2 separate regions of the Homo sapiens genome follow, and region 2 is linked to region 1. Evidence: fine-mapped expression QTL. A gene starts in region 1. The other region holds a variant in brackets. All regions are shown on one strand. Distances are between the middles of the regions.

Region 1 (11,644 bases):
GTACCTGATGGGTAGTTTTTTGATCCTTTCCCTCTTCCCACCTTTCACCCTCAAGTAGGTCCTAGTGTCTGTTGTTCCCTTCTTTGTGTCCACGTGTTCTCATTGTGTAGCTCCCACTTATAAGTGAGACCATAGGTAGGTGGTTTTCTGTTCCTGCATTAGTTTGCTTAGGATAATGGCCTCCAGCTCCATCTATGTTGCTGCAAAGGACATGATCTCATGAAGTTTTTTGAGAAGTTTTTCAGTATGGTTTTCACGTTTGTTGTCAAACAAAACAAGCATGCCCTTCCACAATACATTCCGTGATGTTTCCTGCTGAGAGACATGGGATGCTAATTGGAACAAAACATGGATCTAGTGAAATATGCTAATTCCTAAATCAACACTGCGGAACAGGAAATGTGATCATTTATATAACAATTTCAGAAAGGCCTTGTAGGTTAAACAATGATAAATTTGTATGAGAAGACTATTCTTATTTGACACTAAATACACCTTTGAAATTACTTTGAAATAAAGAAATTAATTTTACCTAAAAGTTGGTGTTTAGTCCATCAAATTGGTCTTTCCACAAGTTTTGTTGATCTGTTCATAAGTATTCAGACTTGAAATAGACAAGCTGAACAGAGGACAAATGAAGACTATATACTCTTCTATCATGGTTAAATTGCCTCATGCTCAATGGAATGACGCTTGACAAAAGTTCATAATTTCAAAAAATTACCTGCAGATTTTTTATGACAATGAGTCATTGTCATAAAAAAGCTCTTAGCTATAATCTAAAAACAAATCCATTAAACACAAACACAGTTTTCAGTTTGTAAACTTGAATGCCAACTTTCAGGACAAAATTGCTTTTTTAAGATAACTTTTCTTTCTGACTCTAAGTAATACATGCTTACAGAACATTTGAAAAATACCAAATCGGTTGGACGCAGTGGCTCACACCTGTAATCCCAGCAGTTTGGGAGGCTGAGGCGGGGAGATCACTTGAGCCCAGGAGTTCAAGACCAGCTTGGGCAACATAGTGAGACCCCATTTCTACAAGAATACAAAAAACTAGCCAGGTGTGGTGGCATGCATCTGTAGTCCCAGCTACTCAGGTGGCTGAGGTAGGAGGATTGCTTGAGCCCAGGAGGCAGAGATTGCAGTGAGCTGAGATCACACCACTGCACTCCAGCACGGTGACAGAGCAAAACCCTATCTCAAAAAAGAAACAAAACAAAAAGAAGGAAAAGAAACCAAAATTAAGGGGGAGGAAAAAATTCCTCAACTTTTGATGTAGTTACTACCTTTTTCTGTGATAGGTAAAATCATACTGGTACAATTTTGAATCCAGTTTCTTTAGTATTTTAAGGTAAATATTTCCACACACAATTACACAGTGAGGCAGAGACAGTATGGTTCGATGTGAGAATTTGGACTCTGTTATCATAGGGTCTGAGTTTGGATCCAGGACCATCATCTAATAGTTTTGTTATCTTTGACTCTGAACCAGTTTTTTAATTTCTAAAATAAGGGTAATTCTCCTAAGATTATTGTGAGCATTCAATGAGATAACTGGTGTCAAAACTGCATAGGAGAACAATTACCTTAACTTCCCTCCAACTCAAAATCATTCACTGTTTCCAACTTCCAAGTGACGATTTGAGGGTATATTCCACACGTTTAAGCCCACCAAATCACTTTAATTTAATCAATTTCCTTCATTTGACCATTTCTCCTCTTAAGAGAGTGTTACAACATAAATTCTCCTTTTACAATTACATCTTGGCTTTTTCCTTCCTCTCAATCCTCCTGTTCTCAAAAAGGTTTTCCTCCTTTATTTCTTCTACTTCATTTCTTCTTCAGAATACTAAACTCCTTTTTACCACTTGACTTTTTAAGAGTAATTTGTTTTGTAGCTCTACTTCCTCTTCGTACATTTGCCCAACCTACTGCAGTTTTGCTTCCGCTCTACAGCTATACGAAAACTACTCTATTCAACAATAACTTCCCAAATGTCAAATCCAAGAATTAATCCAATTTTATCCACATTTATTACTGATCATTTCCTCCTCAAAACTCTATTATCTTCTTTGACATTATACCCTGGTGGTTCTCCTATATCCCTGATCATACCTGGTCAGTAGAGTTTGTTGGATCCTTTTCCTAGCTTTTAAGTAATTGTGACCCACAAGATATTGGATGTTAAATAAGTAAAAGTAATGCTCATAGCTCTTATTGTAGGACAAAATTTAATGGCATTTTATGAAGTGTCACAGTATTTAACAGAGGTTGAATTCTTTTTCAACTCCATCTCTAAACAGAATTGATGTTTCTCACCAAAAAGAGGTTTGAATCTCTCCTTCCCCTAAACACATATACACCTTAGTAATACATACAGTAAATGGAGCCACAAACCCAAGCTAGGCAGAAAAACCTGATCCCTGAGAGAACAGTGGTTTTTAACATTCTCAAGGTCACAGGCCCCTTTGAGAATCACATGAAAGATACAGATCCTTTCACTCCCCAGAATATTTGTATATGAGCTCATACAAGTAGATTTGTAAATAAATTTGAATTAGAATCTCAGTGATAGAATGCAAACAGATTGCTTAAGTGACAAAGGGAGGAGGAGAAGGCTCCTACACCCAGTAATCTATAGCCACAGCCAGAATTTTTGCTAACATTAAAGGAGAGCAAGACTGTCCACTGAAAATCAGTTGATCAGCTCTGTACTTTTAATAAGTTCATAAACAAACACTAAGCCCTAGTTAAAAAAAAAAAGGCTCTTGAAGCAAGACATTAATTTCCAAGGATCAAAAAGTCTACATGGGACAAACAGAAGATTCCATAATGAATCAAATCTATTTCCATATCCATATGATCTTCAGTACTTTAGTGAAGAGGACCTAAAGACAAAGATAACCCACTATGTATCTTTTATAATTCAAATGGTGCAGTGTAAACAGCTCTCATTACACTGTAACTTGTTTTTTTTTTCCTCAAATCCTGTCATCTTTTAGTTTAAGAAGTCCTTTAAATACTGCTTAATATGAATAATTGGATTGGCTAGAGAGATCAGATTTTATTGTTCAAAACTGGGCAAAATTGGGCATAATACCTTGGATCACCATCTCAAAAAAAACTTTTTTTCTGGATAGAAAGAAAATGATATCATTTAAGAGAGAAAAATGGTAACTTTTAACCTGTTTACCTGTCTTTCAAAATGCTTACATTGATCAGACCAGCCTGGATAACAACAGTACAAAGAGAGCTGGTGCATGCACTTGACCGCCATTAATTACCGGGTTTACCATTCTTTATGACTTTGTATTTCAATATTTAACAGTTCAGAGTACATGAGGATATGTGTGCATACCATACTTAAGAATCATTTTATGCCACCATCCAACACCATACTTAAGAATCATTTTATGCCATCAGAAAGACATTTTTTAAAAAAGATTTTCAGATTGGAAGACTAACTGAAGTAGTCAAATATGTCAACAATAAATACAGTATAACAAGAACATTCCTAAGCTTGTCAATGGCTTGGGTCAAATTTAACATCATAATTCAAAAGCACCCAAAGAACATATCCTAACAGTAAATTAGTAGTACCCCTTCATATTAAATGAACTGCACTATGTTTTAATTGTAAATATTGATATATTAGGCATTTTGAAACTTAAATAAGGAAGTAGAGTTACATCCTTGAAACATTGTATAAGGAATTTTGTAAGATGCATTACCTTACCACTCACAGTTGCTCTGATACCAACTCTTATTAAAATCATTTTTTTCCATCTGTGGTTGTCCCATCCCATAATATTTAATAATATTAAGATAGTTTTTTAAGAAAAGGTAAAATCATGACTCATTCAAATATAAAACCAAACCCGTGTTCAAGATTTTATTTAACTCAAAATGGAACCAGGCAGAGAAGATAAAGAAAATCCCAGAATTAGACACCTTAGAGCAGGAATATTGAAATAAATGTGCAAAAGGAGGCAAAACTTCCACTGAATCTCTGAGAGAATTCGCATGTCTTGACAATAATTATTTAGCATTGATGTCACTTACCTAGTTTACGTAACTGAAAAATAGCTTTTTTAGAATTAGTTATTCCAAGGGGTGTTAAGATAGAATCTAAACTATGTAGTTTTCCATTGAAGCACACACTTCTCCCCATAATAATATAATGCACAGCACCTGTCAGGGATATTAACCATACATACCCACTCAAATGCTCCCTTTCCCACCAAGCTTATTAAAATAATAGTTTGTGGCCACAATTTCTTCCCTTCTCATTTATCCAATACACAGCAATCTTGTTTCAAAACTCCTATGCTGCTACAGCTGTCCACAGTCTCATCATACGCATTCTTTGCTATTGCAATTTTCTTGAATATGGAAGATTAGCTGAACATGCATTAAGCTCAGGAAACTCTAAAGAAAATCAGATAATGTAGACAAAAGTCTAATTTCTAGGCTGGCTGCAGATACCTTGTTCAAGAAGCGCCGGCAGGATCTTCTTTTGTACAGCTATGTTAGCTTTAATTTTGCACAGCTCTAGACATCAGAACTCATTTCTAAACACTTCTATGCAGCTCAAGAATAAAAGTAGCAGAAATGCAAGAGAGAAAAGCTAATTCCCACTTGGTGAAAGAGCACTTAAGTCTCAGTGAGCAAACAAGGAGGAGTCAGCCTTGGTCACTTCCCCCTCAAGCGGCCAGAGAGCGGAAACACAAAGCCAGGCCAGTGTCACTCCAGGGATTGCGGGAACCTAGACAACGCACCATCCTGGGCTCAGCGTCTACCCACCCCTCACCCGAGGTGCTCTCGGTTCCGTAGAATGTCCAGTCCACAGGAACGGCAACACGGACTTGTCTTTGGGACTACAACCAGCAAGAGCTCCCGCCTGCCCCATTTCACCTGCACCCTAGGGCGCCCGCCTCCTTGGCTACAGCACCACTGTTCCTAGTGCCCGCCGACTGCCCACCCTTTCACTTCTCGTAGAGACGGCGTCCCCGACAACGCCTCGGGAAAGAACCTAACCAACATGCGAGGAAGTGGCGCCAGGCTCGTTCTTCAAGAGAAGTGACAGAACTAACCCTCAGCCTGCAATCCTGACCAGGGCCGAGTCCCGAGCGCCTCGGACCGCGCCCCCGGCCCTCTCCGCCCCGCCTTCCCTCCCGGCCTCAGTCCCTCCTCTCACAGCACTCTGGTGGTCCCATCCGGGCGGCGGGCGGCACGGATCAGGCTCCTGGTAGAAGGCGGCCGAGCGACATCTCCGGCGACCCTCAGCAGGAGCGCGCCGAGTACGGCGAGTCAAAGTCCCAGGAGACTGGAGTGACCAGCTGCAAATGCTCTGGGCTGCGAAACACCGGCTTCCGCTCCTGGCCAGAGCTCACCAATCAGCGCCCGGCTTTCTCCGTCATTTCCTCCTAGAAGGCAAAGGGAACCTCTGGCGGAAGAGGCTTCCGGAACGGACCCGGAAGGGGCAGGTCTTGTGGGCGGGTCCAATCGGCTGGGAGCCTCGTGGAGGCTGAGGTGAGTCCTGGAGGTGCGTGGTTGGGGCGGAGAGCATTATCTGCGGCTCCGATTTTGCAGATTCTGGCTGAGGCGTTCGTGATGTCAGCAGCAGCCGAGACGGGCGTGTTAAAGGCCGGTTGCTAGGGCTGGGGGAACTCAGGTAACTACGGGCGTCCCCACAGCAGTACTTGGAAGCCCCTCAGCTACTCGGCGCGGTTGCGGGTGCTGAGCAGAGCTGCCTGACCGTGCGTGTGCACGGGCTGGCCTGAGGATGATATGACCGTGTGTTCGGTGTGTGGAACCCTCCGTCACCCTCCCCTGACCGAAGACTCGTTTAGGAATGTGTGGCAGGTCTGTTGCCACGGTCCAGGCCTTCAGTGCATCTTGGAAACATCGTTTTGGGGGCTGTAGGTTAGGAAGCGGAGATCATGGGGTCTCGGAAGAAGGTTTGGTCGTGAACTGTCAGAAAGGAGGCGAAAGCTGTGCACGTGGAACAAAGTGAACAGTGCAAGTTGTATGGGAGGTAGTTTAAATATCGAGGCGATGAAAAAAGGCTGCTAGAATTGGGCTTACTCGAAAGGAAGTGGGCCTCAGAAGATAATATTAGTTAAAAGAAGTAGAGGAGAACATGGATGTTATTCTAAGTAAAACGAATAATATGAAGAATACAAGGTCGCGGGACGAGGAAGGAAACTAGCCAGCCTGACAGGAAGGTTTATTCGAGAAATACGGGGGTTAGATAGGATGAGTTTTTGGAAACTGGCAAACGATTTAGCCTTTTCAAGGCTTTAGGATAGGGAAAGCTCATTTGAAAAGATTAGTCGGTAGTATTATGACGTTTAAATGAAAAGAGTGAAAAACATGGAGGCGGAGGTGCTAGGTGGAAAATCAGTGCAGTAATCCAGTGATAAAGAGCTGGAACTGAAAGTGCTGGAGAGAAAGGGATCCTGTTTCAGAGTAACAGTCAGGTGGAATTGACTAAAGAGAAAGAGGCAAAGAGAAGCAGTTTAGCATAGTGGTTAAAAGCAGAAATTTTGGAGTTAGACTGGCTGGATTGGGATCTGGCTTTGGCAATTAGCTGCTAAATGACTTTGAGTTAGCAATTTGCCATCTCTGGGTCTGAGTTCCTTGTCTGTAAAATAGAGATAGGAAGAGTGACTTCCCTTGTGGTGTTATTGTGGAGAATTTGTTTATTTATTTTTAGAGACAGAGTCTCACTGTCACCCAGGCTGGAGTGCAGTGGCGTGATCATAGCTCACTGCAACCTCGAACTTCTGGACTCAAGTGATCTTTCTGCCTCAGCCTCCCCGAGTGCGTCACCATGCCTGGTTAATTTTTTAAAAAATGTTTTGTAGAGATAGGTTCTTGCTGTGTTGCCTATGTTGGTCTGAAACTCTTGACTCCTAGGCCTTGGCCTCCCAAAGTGCTGGCATTACAGGCATGAGCCACCATACCAGGTCCTTATGGATAATTTTTTTATGCTCATATTTACAATGTGCTAGAGGCTTTTCTAAGTGCTTTGCATATGTTAGCTCGGTTTCATTAATTGCTGTATGTAATTAAACAATTGCATAATGTTATCAGTTACTATAGCGTAAGCACTCTCTAAATCTTGGCTGCTATAATAATATTTTTTTATTAATAATTCAAAGGTTATTAAATGGTTTTGAGCCTGAAGAGCTGGGAAAATTGTGTCTTAGTGTCAGAAGAAAAGAGAGGGGTACCAGAAGTAAGGTAGGCTTGGTTATAGACATGTTAAATGTGAAACTATAAGGTATTCAAGTGGAGATGTTCAGTAAATATTGGAAACTCTATAATTAGTATTCATGTAGGTGGAAAGGACTGGAAATAGACAGATGGGAGTCCCTGGACCTAGGCATGCTATATGAATTCTCCAAGGAAAACACTGTAGAAGGAGGTGGTAGATGGCCAAAGACAGACAAACATAAGGAACAACTACAGAGTCTGGAGGAATAAGAGGAATTGGGAAAGAATTAATCAAATGGCCTAGGCTAAGAGCATTATCACCATGTTAATATTATCTTTCCTTGATTTTAAATTGGCTTTATGTTGGTTCCTGTGAGAGAAGCAATGAGGCCAGTAAGTGATTATTACCAGAAAATATTATCAGAGAGTTGAGATTGAATTTTTTTTGTGTTAGACTAAAACAGCATTTGATAATTAGAAAGACCCTGTAGAGTTAAGCCAACCAACCAAAGAAACAAAAAACAATAGCAAAAAGAAACAGCTCCTCATAAAAGACTGTAACTTCTTTATTTTTGTGTGTTTTAAGTTGCATGGGTGTTTTTTGGGGATACTTTTTACTCTTCCATGTAAAGAACAGATGGGACTGATTTGTTATCTCCTTCATTCACCTCTTGTCCCTTTTATAAATAACCAGTGGATTATGGATTTTCAGTGAATTTAATAAAAGTGCAGAAATTATGGCATCTTTCCAAAAATAGTGTGCCAAGTTGCTCAACCATTTTCTATGCCAAGGGTAAGTGGCTGCTCTGATTTTGAAATGAAGGACAGACTTTCATGTACTAGTAGTTCTCAAAGTGTGGTCCAAGAACTGCAATAGCAGCATCACTTGGAAACTTGTTAGAAATGAAAAATTCTAGGCCCTACCTCAGACTTATGAAATCAGAAACAGGTGCTGGGAGAAGAGATGAGATGGTGTTTTCTAGCAATGTTTTCATAAGCCCTCCAGGTGATTTGGATGTATACTAGAGTTAGAGAACCACTGTACAAGAAGGTAAGTACCATGAGGTTAGGGATTTTGCCTTGTTAATAGTGTATTTCCAGTGTCTAGAATGGTGCCTGTCTAATTGGTAGGTTTTCAATAGATATTCATTGAAAAATATGTTCAGTCTCAGACTGCCAATCTCTGTGTAAAAGCTTTGATGCTGGTTTAATGGGCAGAAGTAAATCAGTTTAGCTGCATTGAGCCTATAATGTCAGATATGCATGAGGTGGGCATGACAACGTGACTAATTTGGAACTTGAGGAATGAGGGATTATATTGAGTCAACACTGAATAAAAAATGATGTCCAGGTATTTTAGGTCAATGATTCATTTAGAGTAAATAAAGATTAAGAAGTCACAAGTTACATGCTTTTAATGACATGATCAACAGTTGGTGTTGTTCTGGCGCAGTGGCTAACACCTGTAATCCCAGCACTTTGGGAGGCCGTGGCGGATGGATCACTTGAGGTGAGGCTTTCGAGACGAGCCTGGCCAATATGGTGAAACCCCATCTCTACTAAAAAAAAAAAAAAAAAAAAAATTAGCCGGGTATGGTGGCACATGCCTGTAGTCCCAGCTACTCGGGAGGCTGAGGCAGGAGAATCGCTTGAACCTAGGAGGTGGAGTCAGCTGTGAGCCAGGATCCCACCACTGCACTCCAGCCTGGGCAACAGAGTGAGACTCTGTCTCAAAAACAAAAAAACAGTTGGTGTTTACTAACCTAGTAGAACCAAGGCACCCAAGGAGCTGAGTTTTCTTTGTTTATATGCACAGATTGCTTCACCTGTGGTATCAGACATCACAACATGGGGCTCACCAAGCAGTACCTACGCTATGTTGCTAGTGCGGTCTTTGGCGTTATCGGCAGCCAAAAAGGTAATATTGTCTTTGTGACACTTCGTGGTGAGAAAGGACGTTATGTGGCAGTACCAGCTTGTGAACACGTTTTCATCTGGGACTTAAGGAAAGGAGAGAAGGTGAGCCTAAAATGACCAGTTTGATACTGATTTATTGGTATTTGAGGATGGAGAGGTAGTAGAAGTGGGGGGGCTCTGATTTATTTATCATGAGTTTTTTTGTGTCTGTGCCCTTAGAAGAAAAATCTTTTTCCTTTAGGTCTAGCTAGCCAAGCATCAAGTTCCTTTGTGTTCTTCGCCACTGAATTCTGAAAACCACAATGAAATAGGAGCTTATTTCTTAGATGTCTATTTGTTGGAATATTTACAGGTCATTATTTGCAGTAATTATTTATTCCTGATGTATTTTTTCTCTACCAATTCTATTTTTCAAGCTCGACTTATGCTTATAGCTGGTTATAAAATATTAGGCATGTAAAAGGAAGGTTAGTCTATTTTGGCAGAATCTTTTTCTAATATGGATAATGCCCAAGTGTTGTTAAAGTAGACTTTGATACTTTGTGTGACTGAATTCCCTAAGCCTACCACTTTTGCCAAACCAAATATAGGCATTTTGATATTGTCCATTCATTTTGTGATTCCCAAGAGGTTAGTACTTTGATTCTTGTTGCCACCAAGAGTCCTTTGTGGTTAAAACCACTGCAGTACTCTGTTGCCACACAGATTATTTTCTTATAAAATGGGTCTCAGTTAAAGGAATTTATAAACCTTTATTGAAAATCACGTAGTGTTGTTCTAGGGTTAAGAATTAGATTAAAGGGATTAAATTTATTTTATTGCCTAGGGAGTTTTTATATGTATTACAACAACGTAGGGCTTTGGAGAAAATAATTAAGCCTTTTCTTAAATGTTTCATTGCCTAGTACAAATACTAATTTCTATATTAAAAAACTTGAAATGGATTGTGGAGTTTCATTTTTATTCATAAGAGTAATTTGGAATTATTGGTGCTCTTAATTTTACTGTGCCTGAGTATTCCTATGCTTTTCCCTTGAGTTCATGCTTAACTCTTCTACATTGTTTTTAATTTTTATGATTTCAGATTCTTATCCTTCAGGGGCTTAAACAAGAAGTTACTTGCTTATGCCCCTCCCCAGATGGGCTACACTTAGCTGTTGGGTATGAGGATGGGTCGATCCGAATCTTCAGTCTCCTGAGTGGGGAAGGAAATGTGACCTTCAATGGTCACAAAGCAGCTATCACTACCTTGAAGTATGATCAGCTAGGAGGCAGACTGGCATCTGGGTCCAAGGTGAGCCTTTGAATCAGCCCAGGCTTTGATCTATTAAAGGAATGTAAGGCTTATGCTGAAGCAAGTTGTTGACAAAAATTGTCAGGTAAAACAATGGGCTGTCAATATACAAAGTAGTATAATGATAGAGTGAAGAGGATGGGTGTGAATTGGGTGGTTCATTTTGTTTCCTTTTGTTCATTTTGTCATATTTTCTGATAAAAGCCTCTTAAGTGTAGGAATAAGATGAAGAGAGCCATGATAACTCTTATTGTGGAAGTGCTACGCAAAACAGTAAAATAAGGAAAGAAAACAAAGACTGGAAAAGAAGAGACAAAATAATTATTTGCCATTGACTTCTGTAAAGTCAGTAGAATTTCCTGTATCTCACAAGTCATGAGTTAGAAAATATAAAAGATTCCATTCACAACAGATTAAGTAACAGACATAAAAATACCATGAAACTTTACTGAAGAATGGAATAGAAGACTTTTATAGAGATATAATCCATGTTCTTGAATGGGAAGACAAGGTATTGAAAAGATGGTAGTGTTTTCTAATTGATTTATATAGCTAAAGCTATGTTTAGACATATGTTTATATAGATACAGATATATTTAAATAGATATCTTAAAGGTTTTAGTTGTTACTTAGAACTTGACCTAATATGGAAAAGCAAAGGAATTGGAAACACTAAAATTTGGGAAGAAAAGAATAATAAAACAGGGGTTTTAGATATTAAAATGTCATATAAACCCATAATTTAAGAAGTATCATATTGATACTTCAATGCAAGTACCAATGCAAAATAGATTATTGCAACCAAATGGAAATCTCAGAAACACATCCATGATTACATTCCTAATTAGTATATTTTAAAGACGACATTTTAATAAGTAGAAAAATGATAGATTACTTATAAAACAGTCCTTAGACAATTGGCTATTTGAGCGAAATTTTTAAATTAAAGCTTTACCTCATGCTATATACCAAAATGAAACAAAGATTAAAGACTTAACTATTAAAAAATAGCATTTTAAAGTAAACTAGAAAATATGTAAGTAAATATCCGATAGCAAGGTAGAAAAGGACTTTATTAGCAAAGAAATAAATTAAAAAAGGAAACTGTTGGTAGATTGGAATACTTGAAACATTTGTACATTAAAAACAAGTCAGAGGACACTGAAAAAGTTAAAATATTTAATATTTTCAATATAAAAAGAAAGG
Region 2 (11,644 bases), 230 kb after region 1:
CATTGCCTATAAAACCATTCCTCCCCTCTCTCTCCTTCCTACTTTCTCCCGTCTCCTATTAGAAGGCATCTTGATGGCCTGCTCCCTCTTCCTTTCTCAACCTACTACCTATAGGCTGCAAATTCTGTGATTTCTTTTTTTTTTTCAGGGTGCCTTAGAAATTCTTATGAGTTTGATTTATGGTGGAAGAATATCAAGGTGGAGTGGGGAGAGAAGGGAGGCAGACTGAAGCAGCACACAGTGTGTGCTGTCATGTTCCATAATCTGGGAGAGGGCTATAACCTGACATCTGCCTCCTGCAGCAACTACTGCTTGATTCACCCTAATCTTTTGACCTCTGTTTAGCGATGTGTTGAAGCCGATTGCTCATGGCTCTTCCCAACTCTCTTCAGTGTGATTGCCTTAATAATTTGAAATATGCTACAGTAGGAGTACTCAAACTAAGGAGATGACAAACACTACAAATCAGAGATGTTCACTTGGAGAAGGTTACTAAACATTTACCAGCATATCACAGCTGCCATCCCAGGAAGAGCTGCATGTCTAAGACTGACTTAGTTATGATTTTCATTGGGAAGACCAAAGCTGTCTCAGAGAAAATATTAAGGAGGGCAAAGCAGATTTATTCCCTCTATTGCATACAAACCCCACCCCCATCCCAAAGACACACTCTGCAGCAATGCGCTATGTGGATCTATAATTAAGAGTCTGCTGATGTTGCTTCAAGTGTGACCTAGCCTTAAGTAATATCCTTCAAAATGGGCTCTATGAAAAGCAGGTGACAAGGCAAGTATAGAGACCACTGACAGGAGCAGGGGCAAACCACTCCAGGGCTCTCCTTTCCTCCTGACCATTTCCCTACTTCCCCACTCAGGCATCTGCACAATGGGGCCAATGATCTGGGAGATCCCTAAGCACCCCCTGCCAACAAATGACTAGATTCCTTCATACTGTGGTGGCCCCTTGAAGAAGCATGGGTCACTGTGGCACAGTAATTAGGAGCCTGGGTTCGATTCACTGAGCCCAGATTCGAATCTCAGTAAACCAGCTGTGTGTCCCTGGGCAAGTTACTTAACTTCTCTGTGCCTCATGCATAAATGAAGATAATGACAGTACCTGTCTATTGGGATTGTTGTGAAGATTGAATGAGAAAACCTATAGAAAGCCCTTCTCAGTACAGCACCTAGCAATAATCCTAGCCATCCTTAAAGATATTATTTTGGGGGGCTTCTGCTCTTGTTGGTCATTAGAACAAACATGGCTAGTCCATGCAAGCTGCTTCATGTGTGAAGAACTTATGGGAGACCCAGGGAAAAAAAATCAATCAGAATATCAACAGTTGCATCACAAAAAGGCAAATATGAGTTTGAACAAGAGTTTGTATAATAATTTTCTCTTGGATAATAATAAACTTGTTAACTGACGTGTTTCTAAAGTATTTTGGGTCCTTGGAAGAGAGGGCCAGAATCATGAACATATTATGTTTAAAATTCTAAAGGAATGTATAATAATTTTTTCAGAGCCATGGAAGAGAATGTGAGTGTGGCAGGAGAAATCTTCAAGTCATTTTGTGCCCTGTGCAAGTCTGCCAGAGACATTAACCTATCACCAACCATAGAAACAAACCAATTATCAATTAGAGTCAAATGAGAAGACACTGAGTTTTAGATTTTGTGCACTGGCTGACTATGAAGATGATCACCTCTGAGGTGGCCATACAGAGGACTAGGGGAAGAAAGCAGCCTCAGGCTACTTTTCATTAGAGATGTGGATCTGCTTACTTGGCTTAAAAAATATGAAAATGAATCAGTTGTTTGCTGGTTGAACTGCAAATATTAATCTGATCAATTTTGGGCATCAAGGTCTAAAACATGGATGTCATGCAGCGCTAGTTCTTAAAATAAAAACAAAAGAAATAAATTGAAGTTTATTTTTGATAGGGAGCCTTAGTGCAATAAGACACGTTTCCTGGCCTGCCGCTATATTCTGGCTTCACAGGGCTCATTACAGACCTTAGCAGAATCTACTAACTCCTTCTCCTAGGTATTACCTGCTATTCAGCTCAGAGTCTTAAGAGTTGATTTGATTATAGATATATATATACACACCCAGAGGCTTTAGTGCTAGGACCATTTTGAAGTATTTCTTCTAATATCTGCATTTCCAAAAAGGAATCCCAGTGACTCCTGGACTAACTCAAAGTGATGCCCTGCTAATGGCGGTATTTAAGGCTGTGGACTGGTCCAGTGGAAAAGGCTCCCCTAGAATTATACCAGAACAGACCCCTAGACAACTTCCTGCTTCACCCATGTGCCTAGCATATAGAAGCATTCAATAAATGTTTCTTGAACTTAGCAGCCAAAACCACACACTAAAGAGAACTTTTACACATGCTTAGCATGGGAGGGCTGACTGAGTATGTGGCATTTTATCAGCCAAACTCAGCACTTTGGAAGGAGTCATGCCTCTGAATCACCCAGAATTTGAATTAGAGAAAGAGCGCATTCCTTTGATGTTTAGACAACACTGTACATGGCTTATATTCACTGATGAAAACACAGTAGTCTAGAAACAGCTTTACTGTGCATGTATACACTGTCTGGCTGGTTTTCCTTGTCTTCATAAATATTAAATGTGACTAATTAAAATTATTGAAGTTCTGGTGTAGGTATGCAGAGAGGTTTGGGTAGTGTCAAATTCTGCCTCTGTGGTTTCTTAGCCAAATGACCTTGGGCTTATCTTTGTGACTCAGTTTCTCATTTAAAATTATGAATCTATTAATACAACTTTCAAAAGACTATTGCAGGACCCAAGAATGAATACACTTAGGGTCCTTTTGTAAATTTGTTGAGTACCACATAAATGTAAAATATTAATATATGCAAGGGAAATATTCTAATTTCCTGTAGAAAGTTCTGCAAAAATGGGTTAAAAGAGGTGACTGCTGCAGTAATTTTGAATTTTGAATTTAGATATGTCCTGGGGATCTTCTTTGTACCGTGTAGCCTCTGGCTTAGGCTGTTTGATTGTTTTTCTTTCGTTTTTCACAGAGTTCTTGGCCCATCCCACCAATCTAGCACATGAGCTTAATTCGGTTTTGCTCCATGCATCAGAGAGTTTTAAGACAGCTATTAAAACACCACATGGAAAAGCTTTGCAGGGAATTCTACTCCACAGAGAAACCACAGAGCCACTACACACCTTAACTATCTCCCCACCCCCAACAGTGGGCTGAAATTACGGCTCCATTATGTTAGTACAATCCAACCAGTTTTATGGCTTGGAGCAAAATCTGAGGTTCAAAATGAACTTCAGAACATAAAAAGTAAGGCAAACCTCAAAAGGAAACGAGCTTCTTTGGGTTTTGAAACAAATATTACATATCAGAGACATTCTTCTAACAGAGGAGACCAAGAAAAGCCAAGAGGAGTCCTGCTAATTGCTCCAGAAATGTAAAACTGGAATCAGAGACTCACCCGCCCTAAAAGGAGATCTCTTTTCATCATCATATATTAAAAGCTACAACCTTTCATCAACTCCTTCCTCAAGCACGAGACCTTCTTTGACCTTGATTGAGTTCCTTCAATGTTGCATCACTATCTTCCACATTAAAAAATAAGATATATTTTTAAGACTTAATGTTAGCTCATTACTTACTCTACTGCAGCCCTTTTGCTTTGTTTTTCTATCTTCCTTCCTGTATTGTAAATGTCATTTATACATTAAGCTTTGTGTATGTTTCATGGATTTGTTGTGCCTTGGCACTAGGGCTACCCAGAAGAAACAAAATAACCGACCAATACTCATTCTCATGAGCCATCCATGCTGTTGCTTGGTTAATTCAATCTCATGGACAACTTATTTTCTTACAGTGAATACAAGCGTCTTCATTTATCCCTTGTTTACTACAAAGCCATGGATATAATTTAATTTCTACATCCATCTTGAGTGGGGCATATCCAGGGCTACTTCTACAAACACAAGATTGCCCTGATTACACTAACTCTATCTTATTCTTCCCCAAATTCAATAAAATGTCCAAGCAATGGGAATATTTTGGCAGCCCAATTACATATCTCATAATATCCCTAATATCTGAAAGCAGGATGTGTCTGACCATGTGTTCTGATTTTTAGGTCTACAAATATGGTCTTCAAATGATAGGGTGAGAAAGAAGAGTTAAAGAAAGAGGATCCAGGGAGCAGTGCCAGATCTTCTAGGGAGCTGAGTTTGTATTATGCTAGCAGGGAATGATGGGAATTTCTCCAATAACTCCCTAGGGGTGTGTCAGAAAAACTATGAGACTGTAACTTGAGCAAGAATAGTGTCAGGGAATCTGTGCCCTACCTCAATTCAACAAAAATGAGTAGTCGTGCAGCTCAACAAGCATTTATTACATTAGTATGACTAAATGTATATGATGTAACAAACTAAGGGATACACAAAATGACTAAGATGGGAGTGTGAAAATGAGCAAACAATGCTTGTATCATGAAATAAATTTCTAGAGACTATTTCTTGTAAAGGCTATTTAACATCAGTGGCCCTGACTGGGTTTTACTGAGGGAATTAGTGTCCAGAGCTGGAGCTGTGCAGTAATCCTGACTTCTCCAGCTGCTCAGGACATAGCAATTGTGCTAGGAAAGTAAAAGGCAGTGGAGACCTGTCATAGGGTAAGGAAAATGAGGTCAGACCTTAAACAGACAAGTGGAGGGTAAAAGTATTAATCAAGATCAATCAATCCTAGTGGGAGGGAAGATAAAATTGTGGAGGGTGGAGGTGTCTGAAGTAGTTCCTGAGATCTTTCTTCTGAGAATGCTTGTAACTTTCTTTAGAGTTTCATGCAATTATCATTTTTTTTAATAGGGAAGGTTTTTTTTCTTCTTTTTTTTAGACGTAGTCTCGCTCTGTCGCCCAGGCTGGAGTGCTGTGGCAGGATCTCGGCACACTGCAAGCTCCGCCTCCCGGGTTTACGCCATTCTCCTGCCTCAGCCTCCTGAGTAGCTGGGACTACAGGCGCCCGCCCCCACCTGGCTAATTTTTTGTATTTTTAGTAGAGACAGGGTTTCACCGTGTTAGCCAGGATGGTCTCGATCTCCTGACCTCATGATCTGCCTGCCTCGGCCTCCCAAAGTGCTGGGATTACAGGCGTGAGCCACGGCGTCCGGCCAGGGAAGGGTTTCTTAGGAGGCAAACAAGAAGGACAGGTGAAAGAGAACTGGGGGGAAGGTGTCACTAAAGCCAGGGGAGGAATGGTGTATGTAGTCAAAGGCAATTAGAAGGTCACTGCTGACCTTAGCAAGAGCAGTTCTACTTGAGTGAAACTGCTTCCCACTCATTCCCTCACTTGTGTAATCCTACACACCCTCATAATTCACATATCTCCTTCATAATATAAAACCCCTTTAAGGACCACGTGACAAAGTATCCCCAGTCAATGATTAGAATAAATTTCAAGCCCTAGATCTGGTTATGGTTCTTAATTTTCTCCAATTACACAGGTACATGGAATCTATTTATTGGATACGTTAGGGCAGTAATTCATTATAATTATTCCTCTCATATTGATTCCCTAATAGAGTCCTTACAATAGCTCTTTCAATGGTGTAATAAAAAGAGCACTGGATTTAGTATCAGAAAACCTGATTGTTAGTCCTGATTCCAACCACATGGCCTTGGAAAAACATTTAAGTACTCACAACCTGGACCTTAGCAAAATAATAATAATACTTAGAGCAGAAAGTCCTTCATTCATTCAGCTAATATTTACTGAGGGGTTACAAAAATTGAAATGGGCATGGCATTGGGAATAGGCATAAGGCATAATCACTTCCCTTAAACAGCATCAGCCTGGGAAGAGAAATACACAAAAAAGGTGAAAAGAGATTACATGTAAACGTATTTCGCAGCTATGAAGCACTGTACAAATTGTTCATTTCTATTATCATATTGTTCATCCAAATGTATTTACTAATAATTAATATTTACTACGTGGGTACCTA[CG/C]TTGCATGTGCTGCCCTAGAAATGAAGGATGCAAAATTGAATAACATGGAGCCCAAATTGTTTCATATTGTATTAACTAATTCTGCAATTTGTTTTTTTTCCTTCAACATTATGTTTTGATGTCTATCCATGTTGAGATATACAGATTTAGTTCATTTATTTTAATTGCTCTTGTCTTATTTATGTTTACATCCTTTATTTCTAGGGCAGCACATGCAACATAAGTACTCACACAGTAAATATTAACTATTAGTGAAATCATACAATAAACAATACTATATGTTATTCATGAATATAGATAAATAGATACATAGGCTAAGAGGATATGTATTCCATCCATATTAGTGTTTGCTTCTGAGAAGAAAGAGAAAGAAATGGAACATAGAATGGGGGTGAGGACAAGAGTTCTTCAGCTTTAATTTTACAGGTTTATTTCAAAAAAGAAAATAATTTTTTGTGAGGGTACAAATGTGCTTGCCACATTATCTTTTCGTGCTTTTCTGCATTTAAAAAAGTACTGAAAAAAAGTGTCTGCTCTCAAAAGACCAACAGTTTAGTAGAGGAAACAGATATAGAAACACTTATAATACAAGGTGATACGCATTGACCTAGAACCCATCTCTCCCTGTGTCTTAGGAAAAGCCTCACGAGCAGAGGTCACTTGAAGAATTAGTGGAAGGAATTCTTTGTCCATGTCCTGCTTGTCCACTGTCTGTCTATGTGGTGACCTCATTCCCACTGCCTGAGAAGCACAAGGTTTTCCTGCCGCGGTTTCCTCTCCTTTTTACATTTTCCATCTGAAAACATCCTTCACTGGCCCCAAGAACTTACTCCTTTTTGTTGGGCTGAAGAAGACATTCTGATTCCTTCTTCCTTTTTTTTTTTTTTTACTAGAGCAAATGACCTCTTCTCTAACTGTGTTCCTTCAATTTTCCCATCTCTCCCTCGCCTCGCCTTGTTTTCAATCCACTCCTCTTTCCTCTCTATCCCTACTTCACACATACATGGCCATCTTCACCTAAGCCCAGACTCCCCACTAACCATTTTCCCTTATGACCTTTTTACTTCATAGTCAAACTCCCCCAAACATGTGACCTACACCAAAAGCTCCCACATCCTGAAAGGCCATAATGTCCTTAATCCCCACACTCCCACTACACTTCTTCCCTCACCACCAGCACCACCACCATACACCCTATTGAAATTGCATTCTGGAAGATCACTGATTATGTCCTCATTACCAGATATGGTTGCCTTGCCTATTCTCCCAAGGTGTTTGTATGTTGGGGACTTGAATTGCCATTTTGTGACCTTCTCTCTAACTTGACTCTTATGACACCACCCCGTTCTCATTCTGTCTTTATTCCTTTGGCTGTTCCTTCTCTGACCATCAGGCTCTTTCTCTTCTTCTGTCCCATAAACAAGGACCTTTTAGGTATCCCACAGAATTCTGTTCTCTTGGCACATATTAGCTATGGATATTATAACTACTCCCATGCTATTGCCTCTGCTCTGACAATTCCCTAGTCTACATCTCCAACTTTGCAGTCTGAGCTATATAGTCCGTATTTTTGACTTCTTGATGAACATTTCTACTTTAATGTTCTGCCATAATCTCACAGTCAGCATGTCTAAAAACTGAGCTCTTCATATCTCTCCAAACCCTAACATAACAAAACAATCAAACAAAAAAACCTCCCTATCACAAACAATAAAAACTAAGTTCATTCTACTAAATTTGTCAGTCAGTCTGAAGTTGGCCATTTCTCCCAGTCATCATAACTTAAAATCCTCCCCCATTATTCTCTCAGATATGCAATCACAGTTGCCCTCTTCCAAGAGCTTTTTGAATCTGTCTCTTCCTTTTTATTCTCATCACTATTCTCCTAGTTCTACCTATAACCACTTTGAATCTGAACTATTGAAAACACCATCTATAGGGTCTGTTTAAGCTTCCAGCTACTCTCATCTCCAATCTATTAGTTTTTCTGAGACATAAACTTTATCATTCTGTGTCTTCCTTCATGTAGAGCCCAAACTCTGAAGTGTGGAATTCAAAGCCCTTTACATTCTCTTCCTAACATATTTCTAACACCATATCTTCATTACTTTTCTAAACTCTTACTGCTCTCAGGCAAATTGCTCTGTGTAAATTCTTGAGTCTGAATTTCTTCACATAAATGGGAATACTACTTTTTTGGTTGTTTTGAGGAATAACCATTGTGTAAAGCACACACTTTATTGTTAGTGGTTACCTGTGGTATTTCAAACACGTCCTGTGTTTTCCCAGCTCTCTGCCTTGCTCAGCCTGGTCCTTTTATTCAGAATGCCCTCCTTCCAGGTCAAAGTCCTGCCTCACCTGTGACTATTTCCCTAAGTGTCTCAGCCCAACAGTGTCCTCTGCCTGCCTATGAAAACTTAGTGTCTGTATTACACAAGTAATGCAATACTTGCACTGTGATCACGGCCTTAGAGCATGTCTTGAGTGCTAGTGTGGATCAGTTTCACACTTGTTAAAGCACAAATCATCACGGTCGTCCTGGGGTTTCTGATTCAGTAAATCTAGGTTGGGGCCTAAGGATTTTCATCTCTTACAAGTTCCCAAGTGATGCCGAAACTTCTGGTGCAAGGGCGCCAGAAGTCCCACTTGGGCGCCCCTCTCTCTTGCAGGAGAGAGCTGTTCTCCTTTCTGTTTCTTTTACCAGTTAAACCTCCACTCTTAACCTCACTCCATGTGTGTCTGTGTCCTTGATTTCCTTGGCATGAGGCAAAGAACCTCGGGTATTTACCCCAGACAACGACGCTACTTCATCAAGAGTTGAAATATGACTGTAATAAACCATTTTTCACATATTTTCTTAGGTTGGTGCCAAATTCATAAGATATGCATGGCAAGTTAAACAATAGGCTTTTTAGAGGGTGCTTTGACTTGACAGTTACAGTAACAACAAGTGTAAATTAAAAAAAAAAAAACTTTCTTTTTTTTTTTTTTTTTTGAGACGGAGTCTCGCTCTGTCACCCAGGTTGGACTGCAGTGGCGCGATCTCGGCTCACTGCAAGCTCCGCCTCCCGGGTTCACGCCATTCTCCTGCTTCAGCCTCCCAAGTAGCTGGAACTACAGGCTCCCGCCACCATGCCCAGCTAATTTTGTATTTTTTGTAGAGACGGGGTTTCACTGTGTTAGCCAGGATGGTCTCAATCTCCTGACCTCCTGATCCACCCGCCTCGGCCTCCCAAAGTGCTGGGATTACGGGCGTGAGCCACCGCACCCGGCCGAAATCTTTCTTTTTACCTAGCATCCTAAATATTTGATGTGAAGACAGAGGTGGTTGAACTTAATATTACTAACCTTAAACTAGTTTAACAAAAACCCAAATATTATATACATACATGAAGTCATATACATTTTTAGGATCACATGCTTTTTCATTGGTGTTTGTATAATTGTGGAGGTTTTCTTTCTATTTCTACTCAATATATGCTGCTGGAGAAAGTGTTACAGTGTCTATGCCACCCAAACCGGCACATTACAATCATATTTAACAGAAAACACACTAAGAACAACACAAAGAATAATGATGGTGAAGGGTGAGGACAAGGGAAAGCCAGGAAACAGAATTCACTCAAACATTTTGAAAGCATTTTACAAGTTTCTGTATGAAAAATATTGAGTTACCATGGAAGTATAGGAAATGTTTTGTCATGGCTAGAAAACTGGCTTAAAGACAAAGGTAAGGTTAATTGGGCACTTCTCTGGACAGAGAAATGTTAACAGTGGGGATCCCTGGAAATCATCCATAGATGGATCTTATTTAACTATTTGTATACAAGACATGAAATAAATTATACAGTAAAACTTAAAAGCACAGGGTTCAGTGCTGGAAGATTTATTTCCTTGTCATTTTGTCTAATTTTTTTTTCTAAAATTGCAGGCTAAAACTCCAGACCTTCTGCATGTCACCACCTTGGCACAATTTTTGTGTAAATACTTATCATTGAAACCATTTTTCTTGGTAATCAATGATATTGTTTGAGCTATTGCAGGTGCTATTTTGTCTAGCCCCACCAGATCAACAAAAAACTTTTACCATCTTCAGCATCTTAAAATTTTGCATGTTAAATATTATTAAAATACTTTTACATAAAATATTTAAAGCTTTATTAATAGTGATTAAAATTTCACTGTACTATACGTTTTCCAAAAAGTTTGCTTTCTTATTTCAGTAGACAAATGCTTTGACAAAGTCAGGACCATAAATCTACATTGCAATGGTACATCTGTGTAGATATTACTTTTTGAGGCTCAACTAAATATTTCATGTCTGACAATGCTCACTTATGTTTAACTACATAACACATTATGTTAAAAGTTCTGATGATATGTTCAAAAATGTCTTTTAATTACTTTATTGATACACTTTGATAAAATTTTTATTTCAAAAACTTTAATGCATAAAGCTGATACATGATGTTCTTTAAGTTTTCTTTCATTAATGATTGCAAAATTTCTTTACTAGAAACATGAGCTTTAACAAATTCTCTGATTTTTTTAAAAGTGTTTTGCCGTTCAGCTCCTAACAACATAGAATTTGAACTTAATTTCCATCCAACATTTATATCATTAGCAATAATAAATTAATCAATTTTTAAGTAGACTCAGGTTGTTTTTCATTTTAGAAATACAAATTGTTTACTTATGTTATAATGATTTTTGTACAATATCAGAACATGCCTCCAGTTGTGACTGATTTTTTCTTTTAATCTCCTGAAATTTAGAATATTTACCTATTTATGATACTTAAAGAAACATTAAGAAAAATAACCAAATTTTGAAGTCTCTTTACTGTGGGTTTTCATTCTAAATATTTAATCTTACATTTATATACTATGTGTATTAAAAACTATTCACACAAAAAATTGAATTGCATTATAATTAAAATAAAAGTAAAACTAAACATCAGAAGTAATAATTTGAGGATGATAATTAACTTGAATAGATTTTAGATACAGGAGTAGAGATTTTAGGTACATTTCAAAGGCAGAGTCAACAGGATTTACTGATTAATATGGCTTGGTTCTATGTCCCCACCCAAATCTCATGCTCAGTTGTAATCTCCGGTGTTGGAGGTGGGGCCTGGTGGGAGGTGACTGGGTCATGGGGGTGGATTTTTCATGAATGGTTTAGAACCATCCTCTGGGTACTATTCTCACAATAGTGAGTGGGTTCTCGTGACATGTGGTCATTTAAAAGTGTGTGGCATGGCATCTCTCCGCTCACTCTCTTGTCCCTGCTCCTGCCATGTAAGACACTTCCTCCTCCTTTGCCTTCTCTGTTATGACTGGAAGCTTCCTGAGGCCTCCCCAGAAGCAGAAGCTGCTGTGCTACCTTTAAGCCTGCAGAACTGTGAGCCAATTAAGCTTATTTTCTTTATAAGTTATCCAGTCCCTGGTATTTCTTTATAGCAATACAAGAATGGGCTTATATTGATGAATTGAGGAATTGATTATGGGTACAGAAAAAGAGAAAAAATAATGAATGGAAGGCTTGGGCCCTAGTGTCTGTCTGGGTGAGTGGTGACATCATTCAATGAGAAGGTGACTACTCTGCAAAGAATAGGTTTTAAGGGAAAAGTTGGAGTTT

The links.
Region 2: its variant is fine-mapped to the expression of GDAP2 in whole blood (TOPMed, PIP 0.93).

The regions. Positions count from the first base shown.
Region 1 is chr1:117,924,245-117,935,888 of GRCh38, forward strand. GDAP2 (ganglioside induced differentiation associated protein 2) reads right to left here and starts at 5,377. Exons shown (of 14, transcript NM_017686.4): 1 at 5,204-5,377. It overlaps WDR3 (WD repeat domain 3), which reads left to right and starts at 5,495. Exons shown (of 27, transcript NM_006784.3): 1 at 5,495-5,538; 2 at 9,044-9,246; 3 at 10,229-10,438. The coding sequence starts at 9,076. RefSeq lists enhancers at 5,302-5,596, 5,478-5,647.
Region 2 is chr1:118,156,665-118,168,308 of GRCh38, forward strand. The region is part of intron 1 of SPAG17 (sperm associated antigen 17); the gene reads right to left. Among named protein-coding and RNA genes, the nearest start is that of SPAG17, 23 kb to the right of the region's middle. The variant CG/C (reference allele first, on the strand shown) is at 6,003.